Regions from separate parts of the Homo sapiens genome. Here region 2 is linked to region 1. A link means that fine-mapping ties the variant in region 1 to the expression of a gene that starts in the linked region. Tissue or cell type: sun-exposed skin. Region 1 holds a variant in brackets; the other region holds the start of a gene. All regions are shown on one strand. Distances are between the middles of the regions.

The links. PIP is the estimated chance that this variant, and not a neighbour inherited with it, causes the effect.
Region 2: SLC2A12 starts here. The variant in region 1 is fine-mapped to the expression of SLC2A12 in sun-exposed skin (GTEx, PIP 0.94). The same link has a PIP of 0.9 or more in aorta.

The regions. Positions count from the first base shown.
Region 1 is chr6:133,987,451-133,995,558 of GRCh38, reverse strand. TBPL1 (TATA-box binding protein like 1) reads right to left here. Exons shown (of 7, transcript NM_004865.4): 7 at 5,127-8,108. It overlaps SLC2A12 (solute carrier family 2 member 12), which reads left to right. Exons shown (of 5, transcript NM_145176.3): 5 at 4,251-7,978. The coding sequence ends at 4,404. Among named protein-coding and RNA genes, the nearest start is that of TBPL1, 38 kb to the right of the region's middle. The variant A/G (reference allele first, on the strand shown) is at 5,067.
Region 2 is chr6:134,048,970-134,057,077 of GRCh38, reverse strand. SLC2A12 (solute carrier family 2 member 12) reads left to right here and starts at 4,454. Exons shown (of 5, transcript NM_145176.3): 1 at 4,454-4,700. The coding sequence starts at 4,598.

The sequences.
Region 1 (8,108 bases):
TTAACTTTGCTTCTCTCCTAGACACATGTTCCAGATCACTTTCTCTCTGGAAACCTCCTCATTTCCTCATTCCTCACTGATGGCCTTGCTTCTGACTTCACTGAGAAAATGGACATAATCAGGGGGAAACTTCCACCCCTTCCACATACACAACCATTCCTCCAGGGCCTATGTAGGAATGCAGTCCTTCCTATGAGAGCCCCCTTCACCCCCTCTCTCCTCTCTCCCTTCTCCGGCACATTCTCCAGCAATTCTCCCAGCTCACTGCTGCATCATCTGCATCTTTACCTACTCCTCATCAGCACAGAAACCTGCTATGATTCTTTCTCCATCTTTTTAAAAACAAAACAAAACAAAAGGTCTTTTTGTGCCACTTTTCTCTCCAGCTTTTGCCCTATTTCTTGGGTACTATGTATAGCCAAGTTTTTCTAAAGCGTTGTCTATATTCGCTGTCATCACTTGTGCTTCTGCTCTTCCCATTCTCACGAAGCTGCTCCAGTGAGACTGTTATGGCCACTCCGCTCCTGAAATTACTTTTTAACATCCCAATTACCTCCATGTTGGTTAACTCTGTGGTCAATTCTCACTCCTCATCTTAGATTATCCCCAGCATTTGACTGGAGATAGTGCTCTTGGCTGGGGATAGTCCTTCCTGAAATGCTTGCCTCACATCCTTCTGCGACCCGTCCCCTGGTTATCTCTTACCTATGGTCTCTATTCCTCTGCTTCCTCTCTTAAAGTTGGTGTGCCCTGGGGCTTAGTCCCCTGACCACTTCTCTATCACCCTCACCAGCCAGTTGATCTCAGTCAATGTTAGTTTCTTTTTTGTTTGTTTGTTTGAGATGGAGTCTCGCTCTGTCGCCCAGGTTGGAGTGCCATCTCGGCTCAATGCAAGCTCTGCCTCCCAGGTTCACGCCATTCTCCTGCCTCAGCCTCCCGAGTAGCTGGGACTACAGGTGCCCGCCACCACGCCTGGCTAATTTTTTTGTATTTTTAGTAGAGACGGGGTTTCACCATGTTAGCCAGGATGGTCTCGATCTCCTGACCTCGTGATCCACCCACCTCGGCCTCCTAAAGTGCTGGGATTACAGGCGTGAGCCACCGCGTCCAGCCAGTTTTACAGTTTTTATCTCATTGATATGCCAGGGTCTGAAATTTATGTCTCTAGCTATCTCTCTAGAATTCAAGGCTTGTTTATTCAACTGCTTACTCTACATGTCTTTCCAAATGTCTAACAGATACCTAATACCTCACATGCCCTAAATTGAACCTGTGATGTTCTCAAACCTATTCTACTCACTGCCTTACCCACCTCAGTTGATGTCAATGTTATCCGACTACTTTGGCCACAAACTTTGGAGTCTTTCCTCTTTCTCACATACTCCACATTCAGTCTATCAGGAAGTTGTGTTGGCTCTTACTTCAAAATATATCCAGAGCCTGAACACCTTCACGGCTGCCCTGGTCTGAGTCACCATGATCTCCATCCTGAATTACTGCAATACCCACTTACTGGTCCCCATTTCTGCCTTTGTCCCCTCCCATCAGTTCTCTACACAGTGGCCAGAATGACCCCTTAAAATGCAATCAAGGTATTCTTTTGCTCCAATCCTCCAGTGGCTCTCCAGCAAGAGCAGAAGCCTTCCAATGCCCTTCCAGCCCTGCACAGCCTGCTAATCTCCCCTTCTTCTCTCACAGCCACACAGGCCAGAGGCTGCATCCCAGACACATCAAGCATGCTCAAGGCTCCAGATCGTGGCACTTGTTTTCTCTGCCTCGAATTCTCTTATCCTAGATATCCACCTGTCTTGCTGCTTCACCTCCAACAGACTTTTCCTGTCCCTCTATTTCAAATCCCAATTGTGTAGCCAACTCTGCACCCACTTTCCAATCCTTCAGTTTTAACCAAAGCAGAAACACTACATTTTACTTGGTCTACTGTCTATCTCTTCCTGCTATATTTAAATTCCATGAAGCCAGGGAATTTTGTTCACTGTTGTTTCCCAACACTTGGAACAATTCCTTGGCATATAATCGAAGCTCGGCATTGAATAGATGAAAAAACATGAATGAAATGGATACAAGAATAAGGTAATGAAGTAGTCAGGATGACACTGCAAGTTTTAGCTGAGAAACTGGACAGATGGTGAGATGCAGAAGCCTGAGAGAGGACTAGGTTTCAGGGCTCAGGACAGAATAGAGCTCGGATTTGGAGATATTGTGAGATGTCCATTAGACATCAAATAGACACATTAGTAGTAGGCAGTTGGATACGTAAGTCTGAAATTTGGAGACTCTAGGGGTTAGAGTCAAATGTGGGTGGCCATCAGCTTATAAGTGGTATTTAAGTCCTGAAGCCAGATAAGCTTATCTGGTCAGAGAACAGAGAGAGAAGGGACTAGGCCCAGTTTTGTGCCAAACTTAGAGACCGAGCAAAGAAGAGAGTGTTAAAAGGGACTGAAAAGAAGCCAACAGTGAGGCTGGAGGAAAGCCAGAAGTGTTGTAGGAAGGTGGGACTGGAGAGGCCAAGCACAAAGACAGATGTAAGCACAGGCTCAGCGGAATGAGAGGACAGAAGCTGACTGATGTGGTTGGAGGACAAAATGGAAGTGAAGTGAAGAAGCAACAGTCCACTCCTTACATCAATTTTGCTGTGAAGGGGAACAGAAAAGCAGGATGGTCATGCCCTAGACTCATTTCCAATCACTGCTTCATTCACAAGCATTCCACTCACCCTCTAACCACTCATCTCTCCAGCCCACTTCCTCAAGTACTGGCACTTCAACAAGTCTTCAGCCCCACGACGACCTGGAGGCCCATGCTCTCCCTTCCTTCCTTACCCTGCTTCCTACTTTCCATGGCCCACCAAGGCCACTTCTTCGCATTTCCCCTTCTCCCTTTACTCTCTTCTCTCTCCCTCCATCACTCAGGCAAACCTTAACTCTGACCAAGTCAACTCTTAGTTTATTTTAACCCTGCATTCAAGGAGCTAAACCTGGCTGAATCAAACACACAACTATGCTGATAAGCCTTGTTTTCACCTTATGAACATACATCTCAAGTAGATCTTGAGGAATACCCTGCAATATACCACATTTCCCTGGTGAGTTGACGTTCCTACTTTCGAAGATGATTACTTCACACCAATACTTTTCCCAAGCCTCCAGGACCCCCTCCCACTTCTTCACTCTAATTATTTTGCTTTTTAGTTCACTGAGAAAATAAATTGAGACCACCTTGTCCTCCTGCCACAAGATCTTCTAACCTACCTACATCTATGCCCACACACACTGCCTTGTTGCAAAGGCCAATGCTTCCATTTGTACACTGACTGCATCAATTTCCCCCTCCTATGGGATTATCATCACGCACACACGCACAAAGCTGCAGTATTTCCCATCCTGAAAAAATACCTTCCTCAGATTTCCCTCCAGATACCAACCGTTTCCCTGCCCCAACTTCTCAGGTCTCTGGGATTCTCTGCAGGAGTTCCCTCCCTAACTTCATTCCATTTTCTGATCATTGTCACTGCTTTAGAGAGATGCCACCTGTATAATACAGTCTGTCCTCTCCCACCCAACTAAACCCTTTTTTCTCCTTCCCCGTTTATTTCTCATTTGCACTTTTACTACTTCAAGTTATAAGCTCGTCTCCCCTCTAAAATCTAAGTAAGCTCCTTGAAAACAGAAGTCTTTATCTACTCAACCCATACTACCTACATATTGTGGCCACTCAAATCATTGGTTAAATTACAGAAAAAGGTATTTGAAAAGGGAGGTTCAAAGGCAGCTCTTCATTTTTAGTAAAGGTAAAATACAATAGCATCTTTTTATGCTGATGGGAAGAATCCTGTAGAAAAATTTGTTAATGCAGGAGTAAGGGATAACGTAGAAGATAGAAGAGATATAAATATAGGCACATTGCTGGAGTTTGAGAAATGGAAAAAAATAAGGTCTGGGATGAAACCTCCACTGGTTCTCTGTATGTAATACTATCCTTGGAATCCTTCCCCACAGAGCTGACTGCTGGGATTGTATTCTGAGAAGACACCGTTACCCCTTGCATGAGATTGACCAAAGTCTGTGGCATACTGAATTTCATGATGCAGCAGGATTCCTAATAAAAATGTGTATTTATTTTTGCATAGCTAAAACATTAAAGCCCCAGGGTGGTTTAAAAAATAATAGCCTACACATTTTTTTCATGTAAACTAAGAATGACATTTTCATTAGTGCCTCTTTCTCTTTCAGGAACTATGTGAAAAACAACATTTGTTTTATGAGTCATCACCAAGAAGAATTAGTGCCAAAACAGCCTCAAAAAAGAAAACCCCAGGAGCAGCTCTTGGAGTGTAACAAGCTGTGTGGTAGGGGCCAATCCAGGCAGCTTTCTCCAGAGACCTAATGGCCTCAACACCTTCTGAACGTGGATAGTGCCAGAACACTTAGGAGGGTGTCTTTGGACCAATGCATAGTTGCGACTCCTGTGCTCTCTTTTCAGTGTCATGGAACTGGTTTTGAAGAGACACTCTGAAATGATAAAGACAGCCTTTAATCCCCCTCCTCCCCAGAAGGAACCTCAAAAGGTAGATGAGGTACAAGGTCCTAAGTGATCTCTTTTTCTGAGCAGGATATCAGGTTAAAAAAAAAAAGTTACTGGCTGGTTTAATACTTTCTACCTTCTTCACAGAGCAGCCTTTGAATAGACTATGTCCTAGTGAAGACATCAACCTCCGCCTTAAGCTATGTATGTATGGAGGCCAGTCGCAGCTTTATTATGCAGACACACAAGTGGTCTGGACATGAGGGTACAGTTTCTGCCTACCAAGACACTACTTGCACTGGATCTTACGCAAAAAAGAACCAGAACACACAGTGTGGACAACTGCCCATATATTCTATCTAGATTAGGAGAGGGTCCTGGCTAGGATTTTAGTGGTAATTCCTAGTTACATTCAACAAGTATAAAGATTATAGAGCTTATTTTATGAACTATAAACTATAATTTAATGCAAAATATCCTTTTATGAATTTCATGTTAATATTGTGAAATATTAAAATAATTCC[A/G]CAATAGTTGAGAAAAATGAGCATTTTTTTCCATTTTTAAAAAATGCATAGAAAAGACAATTTTAAAATCCTGGGACCATATTTATTTAGAAGTAGCTGTTAGTAAAACATTAGAAAAGGAGTCAGGCCATTAGGTTATTTATCCAAATCTCTAAGCAATTAGGTTGAAGTTATTAAGTCAAGCCTAGAAAAGCTGCCTCCTTGTAAGGCTTTCATGACAATGTATAGTAATCCACAGTGTCCAATTCTTCACACTCCTCAGGAATATCACTACCTCAGGTTACGGTACACAGGCTATAATTGATGATGATGTTCAGATAACTGAAGACACAATAAATGACATTCAGACATCAGGACAATTCCCTCATGTTCTTTTCTATGATGGCCACCTGTACCAGCAACGTGGGTTTCACCCACACAACGATGAACTGTTCTCTTACTTCTCCAGTTGATTTTAAAGACTTGTTAAGAGGTCTTACTAATAAAATTTGGGTATGATAGAAAATCCACAATCAAATCTTGAACCAAATAACATATTAAATTACTAATATTTAAGTGATGGAAGACACACAAAAAACTTAAAAGCACGAACAACCTAACTTGAAAAAGAATTTTAAAATATGATTAACCTGAAGAAAAGAGAATCCTAAGAGCCAAAGCTCCTTTTTATTTAGCTTGGAATTTTCCTATTGGTTCCTAACAAACTGTCCCAATGTCATATAAGGAAACATGATCTATTACATTCCTTTATAACAATGTGGAGAGACTATAAACCTATGTAAGTAGTAAAACTATATCAGAGACTCAGGAGACTGACTAAAAGGCCTGGATCTGCAGTGTATTATCTGTATAAAAATTGGCAGGGGGAAGCTAAAAGGAAAGGAGATTGGAGATCTCAATTCTATCATGGTGTATTTCATACGCAAATCAGAGCATGCATTGTTTTTTGTTTTTGGAAAGAGAAGGGAAGTGTGTTCTGCCCCATGTTTCCTTCCGTGTTTATAGTTCAAACTCTATATATACTTCAGGTATTTTTTGTTTAGCCCTTCATTATAAATGGGCAGGAAATTGTTTATCAACCTAGCCAGTTTATTACTAGTGACCTTGACTTCAGTATCTTGAGCATTCTTTTATATTTTTCTTTTATTATCCTGAGTCTGTAACTAAACAATTTTGTCTTCAAATTTTTATCCAATATCCATTGCACCACACCAAATCAAGCTTCTTGATTTTCAAAAATAAAAAGGGGGAAATACTTACAACTTGTACATATATATTCACAGTTTTTATTTATAAAAAAAATTTACAGTACTTATGGAGAGCCAGCAGAAGACATCAGAGCACTCACTTCTTCCCATCTTTGTTAAGGTTAGCGAATTACCCATGGACACTGTTAGGTGAGGCTCATTCGGCAGCCCTGAAAACAAACCTGGTCACACTGTCTTTACCCTCTCCCTTCAGATAAAGCACTTCGATTATCTATTGATCTGCCCAGTTTTCAAGTCATGCGAATACTAAAAAGGTTACATCATCTGGATCTGTACCTTGGCTATATAAGCATGTTTTCCCCCTATTCTATGTTTCTTTTTTTGGTGAACATTGAAAAACAGGAGGTGACTTATTACTGTTAATTAAAACTAAATGAAAAATGTCAAGTCTTTAAAACAGTGAGCTTGTAACTCTTTCATGTAATTTTATTCTCTATGAATTTGGCTATCCTACTGAATCTTAAAATAAAGGAAATAAACACTTTTTTTTTAAAAAAAAGGAAAAATACAAGTCTAAAAATCTCAATGAAATATTTCACAAGAAGGAAAAATGTAAGTTAGCCTTTGCTTTCCACTTTGGAATAAGCAGGAGGTTAGGGAAGGCATTGAGAAGAAAAAAGATAAAAATAATATGTGTTGTTCAGTGCAGTGCCTAAGCTAGGTTTTCAAGATTTTATAATACAGTAAGGAAAATGTACTATATATGGAGATTAGGATGTTGCAATTTTTCCACAAAGGTTTAAAAACATTTTGGAAATACAAGTTTTTGTGGAACATTGTGTTGGAATATTGTCCCCATTAAGTTTCTCCTGAGAAGCTAATTGGACTCTCCACTCAGCTTTATTTCTAGGTATAATCACTGTTGGTTACACTAAACTCCTAAACCTAAATGACAGGGCACAACTACAGCTTGATCCTGTATTACCACATCAGGGCTCCTGGGTGAGCCAGAGACACTGTTTCATAAATGCATATTTATTATAACTTTAAGAGTAGCAATCTCATATACTGAATAGTCACTCTTTAACTCCATTAAATAAGATACAGCAAGGGGAAGGACAGTATCACACAAAATGGCTTTCAAATTCAAGTGGGGCTATTTGATAATTACACTGTGGCACAGAGGCAGCTTATGGGCACTTCTTGTTAAAACATCTCCATGTTACCAACTTCTGACAAGACTCTTAGTATAGGCTTGGGCATCAACCCAAGATTAAAGTCAAGAACCTCAATCACTTCTCTACAACTACAGGTGTTGAGTCTTTCCAGAAAAACAAAGGTCCAAATGAGGCACCATTCATCACAGCTTCTTTCTCATTTCCATCTAGTGGGTAAGAGGTTTCTCTTCTTAAAACTACAATTTCTTAACCTTTACAAGTTATTTAACATTTTCTATCATATTAAATTAGCAACATAAAACATTATCCTTTATCTATAAACTTCTAGTCTGGTTCCCTAGAGTTTATATACACGTTTTTATTTCTAATCTGCAAGAAAAAAAATTCCTATTTGTTATTTGGTAACAGAGCATTAAAAGATACTATACACATGTGGTGCATATATATATATATATATACACACACACACACACACACACACAAAATACACTTCAAAAAGAAGCCAACACACTTTAGCCAAAGTCTTAAGCTTGCATAGATTTTAAAAAAAAGAAGTATGAATACAATTTTTGTTAAAATAGAAAATGGGGAATAAAAGTTATAGAATGAAGAGAGATCTTTTCCAAACTTTTATTTGTGCACATTCAATTGAAAAA
Region 2 (8,108 bases), 62 kb before region 1:
TTAGAAAAAGCTGCCCTTTCTTCAGGTTAGTATTGTCATATTCTGGAAGATTTGCTTTATAAATAAGCAAACTTCTGCTGTCTGCAAATGAGAATGACCCACTTAGAGTTGTACTGTGTCCAAATTGCACAATGGTATATGGCAGCCCTAAGTATGAAGAAGTTTTCTTCAAATTTATATTTATTATATATACAATCTGATAGAAGCATTAAGCAAACAACTTTTAAGACAGTACTTTTTACACATGATTTACCACCTCAACCTATTAGTTATTTTCAGTTGTTCCAAGTTTCCTTCCAGTCTCTACCAATAGGCGCATATATTTTAAGAAAGTATTGTAATAGTAATGAGTATGCAACTTTCTGTATGCCACTTTGATTCTCCCACTTAAAATAATTGGAAAAACATTTTCTTGCATTGCTACATTGTCTTTCTTTTAATGATTTATCACATGTTATAGCAAGTGAACATACCATAATAAATTTAACCACACTTACTTTGTAATTTGAGGAACTTTAATCAACATGTTATGAGTGATAATATTCTACACCTAAGGAAAGAAGTCATAATGAAAACTTTCAGATAGAGAAGTTATTTAGATAGTATAAACAGTGAAATAATAAACATCCTTCCAAACAATCATACCAAGATGAATATTTTATTGCAATTAGGCTAAACAAGAAGTGAATTTGTATTTGGAATTTTTTTGTTTGCATAAAGACCATATTTTCCCATTTGTGTTTACACTGTAATGAACCATTGTAGAAGGTGCATTCCACATCAATGTGCACTGCAGGGTGCACTGCAGGGAAACAATACGGTGTAGTGAAAAGCATTTGGGTTTTGGAATCAAATGGACTTGAACTGCTGTGCTCTGAAATGTTATGTTCTGCATAAAAAGACTTGTGCAAGAGTGCTCATAACAGTTTTATGTGTAATAGCAAAGAATTGGAAACAGCCCAGATGTCCATCAATAGGAAAATGGATAAACTGTGGTGTATTCACCCATATAACACTATTCAGCAATAAACAAAATGAACTACTAATATACATAAAAACATGGATGGATATCAAAACTATGCTCAGTGAAAGACTCCTTACACAAGGCTGCATTCTCTGTGGTTCCATTATATGAATTAAGGTTTAGAACAAGCAAAGGTAATCTATGTGGAAAAATATCAGAAAATTGGTTGCTTCTGGAGCTTTTTTGTCTTGAAAAAAAGAACCTAGTATTGAACTCTATTTAATAATATGCATTCTGAAGTATTTCAACTTACTTTGATATGTATAAAAACTAATACGGATCGACTGATGGATGGAAGAATTGTTATATATAGATGTGAATGAGCAAGCATGGTAAAATGTCGAGTGTAGGTTTTCCTGTGGGATTCAAATTTTTATAATTCAACATTGGAAAATGTTTTGATCTTAGAAATGTTTCATAAACTTCTCGGTTTCAGTTTCTGCAAAATGGAAGTAACGGTATTTACTTCACAAGGTTTTTGTGAAGCTTTTAAAAAATTGCCATGAAAATAGGCATGCTCTATGGTAGATGTTTACGAGCCCTGTGAAGCTGCTTGTCTTTCATCCCCTCTTCCCCGCTGTGCCAGTTTATAAGTCAGGATAGGTGTTTTTGGATTTGGTAGCATTGCCTATGAGCAGTGGTCCAAAGTGGTATGTAGCAAAATTATTGGGGTTATGAAGAATGAACTGTCTGCTGTCTGCTGATTATGAATTCCTTGAGTGGAGGAACAGATTTTAATAATGGAAGTGGCTCAAACTCCAGGGAAGATGGATAGCCTGTGGTTATACTTGGTCTAAAGGAATTGGCAGAAACAGAGAGGAAGGACAAAATGTCATAGGCAATCATCATATGGATTTTAATATTTAAAAACTAAATAGTTATTTAGTCACTAAAAGCTCTATTTGTGAGCACTCATTTATCTAACAAATATTTATTAAGTGTCTACTGCATGCCTGGCATTGTGTTAGGAGCTGGACGAATGTGCAAGATAGAAATAGGTGCCTGCCCTCTTGGAGCATACATTCTAGTGTTGCTAAAGTTTATTGGATTTACAGGGATCAGTCTGTCAGCCAGCAAATACTTACTGAGTATTTGCTGAGTGCCAGACACGCAGAATACTATAATAAACTAAACAAACATAGTCCATACTCTCATAGAGTTTGCAATCTAGCAGAAAAGGCAGATTTAATTGAATCACCGCATTTAACTGTATTAAATACATTATGGTGTGCAAAAGGCTGGGAAGGAGAAGTACAGGGTTCGTAACAGAATTGAGGCAGAGTTTCCCCCCTCTAGTCTGGGTGAAAAAAATTTTCTCCCCTAAACTTTTCTCTGAGTTAAGAGATTGAGGTAAGTACAAACAGAGCTTGAGATAGCCAGTGGCCCCGGTCAGGTCACCAGCAGAATAAAGAACAGAATTAGGAGCACCAGGAGGTGATGTTGTCAGTTGCATTGCTGAGCATTCTTTTTGACTCCTGGTTGGCTTACTATGCCTGTGGATCTCCTGTATGGTTTGGCTACACAAAACAGAGTGAGAACTGTTGAACTGCTTTTAACCATAGTAAAGTATTCTGGAATTAGTTTTGTCTTCTGTCTAGTCAAGCACTATAGCAAACACTCTAACACTCCCATGGGGCCAAGAAGCTGCTAGAAACACAGGTTGTGGGATCACGAAACAAAGCAATGATACAACTAACCCATTGCAAGAACATTTTCCCCCTAATGAGGTCATTGGTTCTGAGCAGAAAGAAGTTAGAAGCCAAGAGAATATAGAGAACTTATGGGAAACATATGTGTCTCACAGATAGAAACTGGGACTCCTATATAATTATAATGCACCCTGGGAACAAATAAAATGAGTTGTTTCAAACCATGGTTGCGTTACACATTCTTTAGTGGGGACACTGATGTGTGGGATTCTGAACTTCTCACCCTCTTAATCATAAGGGGCCTGGATTATGCCTGGAGGACTTCCATTTTCTAGCACTATCAGCAGACATACAACGGGTACATAATAAAGACTAGTTGAATTATTATAGGTTTGTTTCCATTTGCTACCTGTTTCCCTGAAAGATAAGAAAAATATAGAATTATTTAATGACAAGCAAAGGAAATGTACAAATAAGTGAATTTAGAACTTTGAAGTGATTCAGTTAAAATGTTGAAAAGAAGTAACAAAAATTTAGCTTCTGCTTATACAAGCACAAATTTGTTTTTCTGTCCAGAGAAATGCCTATGACTAAAAGCCATATTTCACGGCATCTTCTTAAAGTCGAGTAGGTCTGAAACCATAGGAAGCCAAGAAAATTAGAGAAGGACAAGGCTGGGAAGTTAGAATATAGGAGAGTTACAGCTTTAGACCTCCTGGATTCATAATCTCAGCTCTACCACTGATTAGCTGTGAGACTGTAGCCAAGTTACCCAACCTCCATTTCCTCTTCTATAATGTTGGTACCTGCCTCAAAGTCATCATCTGCGTTATTGCGCTTAGCACAATTTCTGGCACATAAGTGCTCCACACATGTTAGTTTTTATTCCAAATGATTTTTAAGATGATCTCAATTTCCTCTATAAGGCTTTTTTTTTTAATAAACATGATTTGTTGAATGAATAACTGAAGGTAAAATGTCATAACCCTGTAAGACTTTTTTATAAATATGTTCACAAATCAGAAAAAGATCCTCTCTCATGACCTGATTTTGTTTGAGATTACATGTCCACCACACGCACACAATGGGCCACTTAGTCTGGCCTCTCTGAGTGAGGAGTATCCTCCTCCTACCTACGCAAACATGAAACCTAACAGAGGATTCAGTGTTAATTTGTCTCTTAAAGACAATTCTGCATTAAGAAATGGATTACTTTGCTATAACCTCAGCATATAAAAAGTCTAAAGAATCTGTGCATTCTGAGTTTGTGTATTTTTGGTCTCAGGCTGTGATTTATCTGAAAGGCCTTGGAGAGAAAGATATAGGCCTTTACCTAGACCAAAATCAGGTTGAAACAATAAAGGTATTTTATGCTTTGTGTAAGCTGGTAAATACCATGACTTTTGGAATAACAGTCTTGCTGAAAAATTGACACACTTTTCCTTCTGGTATGTCTTTGCATAAATTGTTCCTCTTTCTGCAAGATTAACTGATACCATCTGTGAGTATTCTATCCCCACTCTCAGCTTGCATTTAAATCTGCATGTTTCCTTTCTCTGCCTCTTTTCAAAGGTGCTAGAATACAAGAGCTACCCTTAGCTAATGGCCAAACACTCCGTCTGAGTTCCCTTTCTTTTAACCCCTTGCTTCCAACTCTGCATCTAAAGGCAAAAACAATCCTCTGACTCACGGCCCTCCCCCTGCCTGTGATAGGCTGCTTGGAATAGCAACAGCCTGTGTCACCGAAAAGGGCAAAGCCTTCGGAAATAGAAACAAAGTTGGTCACAAATCACATTAGCTTTGCCCGAAGTTTTTCCCCACACTCTTCTTTAGCATGCTATTATGGGGAAAGTGACCACTCCTGGGAGCGGGGGTGGTCGGGGCGGTTTGGTGGCGGGGAAGCGGCTGTAACTTCTACGTGACCATGGTACCTGTTGAAAACACCGAGGGCCCCAGTCTGCTGAACCAGAAGGGGACAGCCGTGGAGACGGAGGGCAGCGGCAGCCGGCATCCTCCCTGGGCGAGAGGTAAAGTGAGCCTGCAGTGCTCGGGTGACCGCAGAGAAGCAAGCTGTACTCATCTCCCGAGTGTACTGTCTCTTGAGTCCCGTGTGTGTGTGTGTGTGTGTGTGTGTGTGTGTGTGTGTGTGTGTGTATGCGCGCGCGCGCATGTGGGCGCGCTGGATGAGTGGAGAGAAGGGGACAGGGTCTGGTGGGACGTGGGACAGCTCGGAGCTGTAATGTTGTGAAGATCGAAGTCTTGGTGGAACCTTATGTGCCAAGAAAATACAGGTTACACATCCACCACTGGTATGATGGGTCCCCTTGATTGTGTTTACATAATACAATGTATGGATGTTTTTCATATTGGAACGGTCCACTGGCAAAGATAGTCTCATTTGTAAACACACACAAGCACACGCTTGCTTACACTTTTTCATTTATTGTCACAAATGGACACTGTGTAACCAGTTGACATTATAACCACTGTTTTAAAAATCAGTATTTTAAACAGGCTTCATAAAATTATTAGTTATGTAATCAATGAGAACACAAACTTCCTTTTTAAATTCCCAGCACGTTTGTGATGAATTTGAGCGTTATTCAGAGCCTGAAACGCTTGCTTTGCTGGGTTCTGCCTTCTTTAAAACTGGCCTTGCAAACTGAGGTTTGTTTGCTATGATGACCTTCTGAAGGTGAAATTTGGAAAAGTTTTAATTCATTTAATGATCTTTGATAAATCAGAGGCTGGTCTTCACTTCCACATTTACAATTCCCACAAATACATTGTACGCTTTTTGCTGCCTCTTCCTGCTCATTTAGTTTGTGCTGCAAGGAATAGAAAGTAATTGTAATATGAAATGACAACAAACACAAAAAATCTTCTCTTTCCTACTACTTTCCTCAGCTGTGTATTCTTAATCAGATATTACATTCCCAAGCAGCATATAGAAATTTCATGCAAAATCCAATACACTAAATGATACAAAAGACATCTGCCTTTCTCTTGGGAATGGTCCTAATACTGACGTTTGCCTTGTGGGTTTGTCTGATCTTGGGGAATCGAACCTGTGACCCCTAACATCGAGGCATGAAGCGGCCCTCTTCAGGAGTGGAGAAGCCCTCCATCTTCCATGTCCTGATCTCTTCTCTTGCTTTCACACTTCTCGTCAAGAATGAGGCCGGGCGTGGTGGCTCATGCCTGTAATCTCAGCACTTTGGGAGGCCAAGGTGGGCAGATCACTTGAGGCCAGGAGTTCAAGACAAGCCTGGCCAACAGAGCGGAAACCCTATCTCTACTAAAAATACAGAAAAATAAAAAAATTAGCTGAGCATAGTGGCACATGCCTGTAATCTCAGCTACTCAGGAGGCTGAGGTACAAGAATCACTTGGAGGTTACAGTGAGCTGAGATCATGACACTGCACTCCAGCCTGGGTGACAGAGTGAAACTCTGTCTAACATAATAATAATAATAATAATAAAAGAATATCTGGGGTCATCTTTCAATATGGCCTGTCCTCTCCTATGCAGAAGTACCCTTTTCCCTAAGCGCTTGCTACTCATTGGCCCACAAGTTCCCTAAGAGCAGGCAAGGGAAACTTATATTTGGAGATAAAGGGAAAGAGTTGCAAAGTTCTTTTCTCCAAATTCCTGGGAACATGAGCTGCAGTCTAGACTGCAGAGCAAGCTGAGGTGGTGATGTTAACAAAAGGGCTCACTAAATACAGTCAGTGATAATGTCACAAAGAAGATGAAAAGAAACTGCCTAGGAAGAGCCTTTGTAGTAACCATTAAAAATGGACTGTTTATTTTGATATGGCTTTGAAGGTACAATGTGCTCTTAATAGCTTATATTGTACAAATTCACAATTATCCAGAAGAAAGATAATGTGTATTTACATTTGCAATAGTTGGTTACATGCACAAAATTCAACTTAAAGTGCAACTGTTTATGTTGTAAAGAAATAATAAATGAATAAGTACCATAAATTATCTTTCAAATTTAATTTTAAATTAACTTTCATTTTGTAGAAGAGAAAGCCTGAATGTTTCCTTAAAATGTCAGATGAATACAACTTTGATTTGTGCTATACATAATCTGCATTTAGATGAATGCAAACCTTTTATTTTCTACTTTTGTAAATTTTCTTAACTTATCTTAAACATCTTTTGGCACCCAAAAGCAATTATACATACATATGTATAAATGAATGCATAGTGCAGACTTGCTGTATGGTTTTCTTAAGTTACTTAAAGTCTCCATTCATTAATATTGGGATTGTATCTTCATCTATTTTATGAAGGTGTTGAGATTTAATGAGGTAATATTTGTCAAATACTCCTTTTGGCTTCTTCATATTTTCAACTTCCATAGTTTTCATTTAAGACATTCAGAGTATTTAAATTATGCTCAACAATTATCACAATATGTCTGCATTTGAAGGTAGCAAGCTTTTCTACATTCCTAGATGGAAAAATCAAAGCACAAAGAGGAATGAGTTATATAACTCAGGACAAGGTAATTAAATCATGTGAGATACTGAAAAACAAAACAAAACCAACCCCCTAAGGTCTGCAGTTGAACTCCCTTGATGCTATTGTGCACAGTGAAAAATTTTGGTAGGTCTTTCTTGACTAACCCTCTTTAACTGAAAAGAATGCTTTGTTCCAATGACTAGAAGCTAATGAACTTAATTCATTTTCAATAAGCTATGACTCAAAGTGGTTACATTTTTAGTAAATTTTTTCAGCTTTCATGGACATGTTCCAATCCATCTTAATATAGGACAGGATTAAGCTCAGTTTGAAATTCTGGTGCCTAGAGTTGACAACAGATATAAATGAAGTGAGATATTAGACGGATGGAGCAACTCACACAAGGGAAATCTGAGGTCAAAAGATGTGTGATCGGCCCACGGTCACACAGAGGATGGTGCAGAACTGACCCTGGTGGCCTCTGGCCCAGGAGATTCAATACTGACTTCTACTTCAGCTCCCAGGCTTCCTTTATTTCATGATCCAAACAATTGGCTGGGGACAGAGTCCTCTTAAGTTTCCCTTCACCCCCAACTGTCCAAAGGTTCAGAAAACAAGAACAATATTTACTGTATGAGTGCAGGTTGTCAGCACTGCAGAACTCTCTGGCACTGGGACCCAGAACATGAAGAACGGGACTCACGAACTCAGCTGAAAGGACTGTCCTTTATCCCCTCTGAAGATGCCACAGTCTGGAATTTAAGAAATACACGCTTCTGCTCAGCAGATGAACATTCTAAGGCAGTTGTTCTCAAAACGCTTTTAAAGCTGTGAACTCCTTTTTCCTAAATGGAAGCTGGGCAGGTGGTGAGTATGTAAGATGTAACTGTAACTAAGTTCCTACTGAGTGCTGTTCTCCCGGGTTTAGCTTAAAATGGGCCCCCTGGAATTTCGTCAG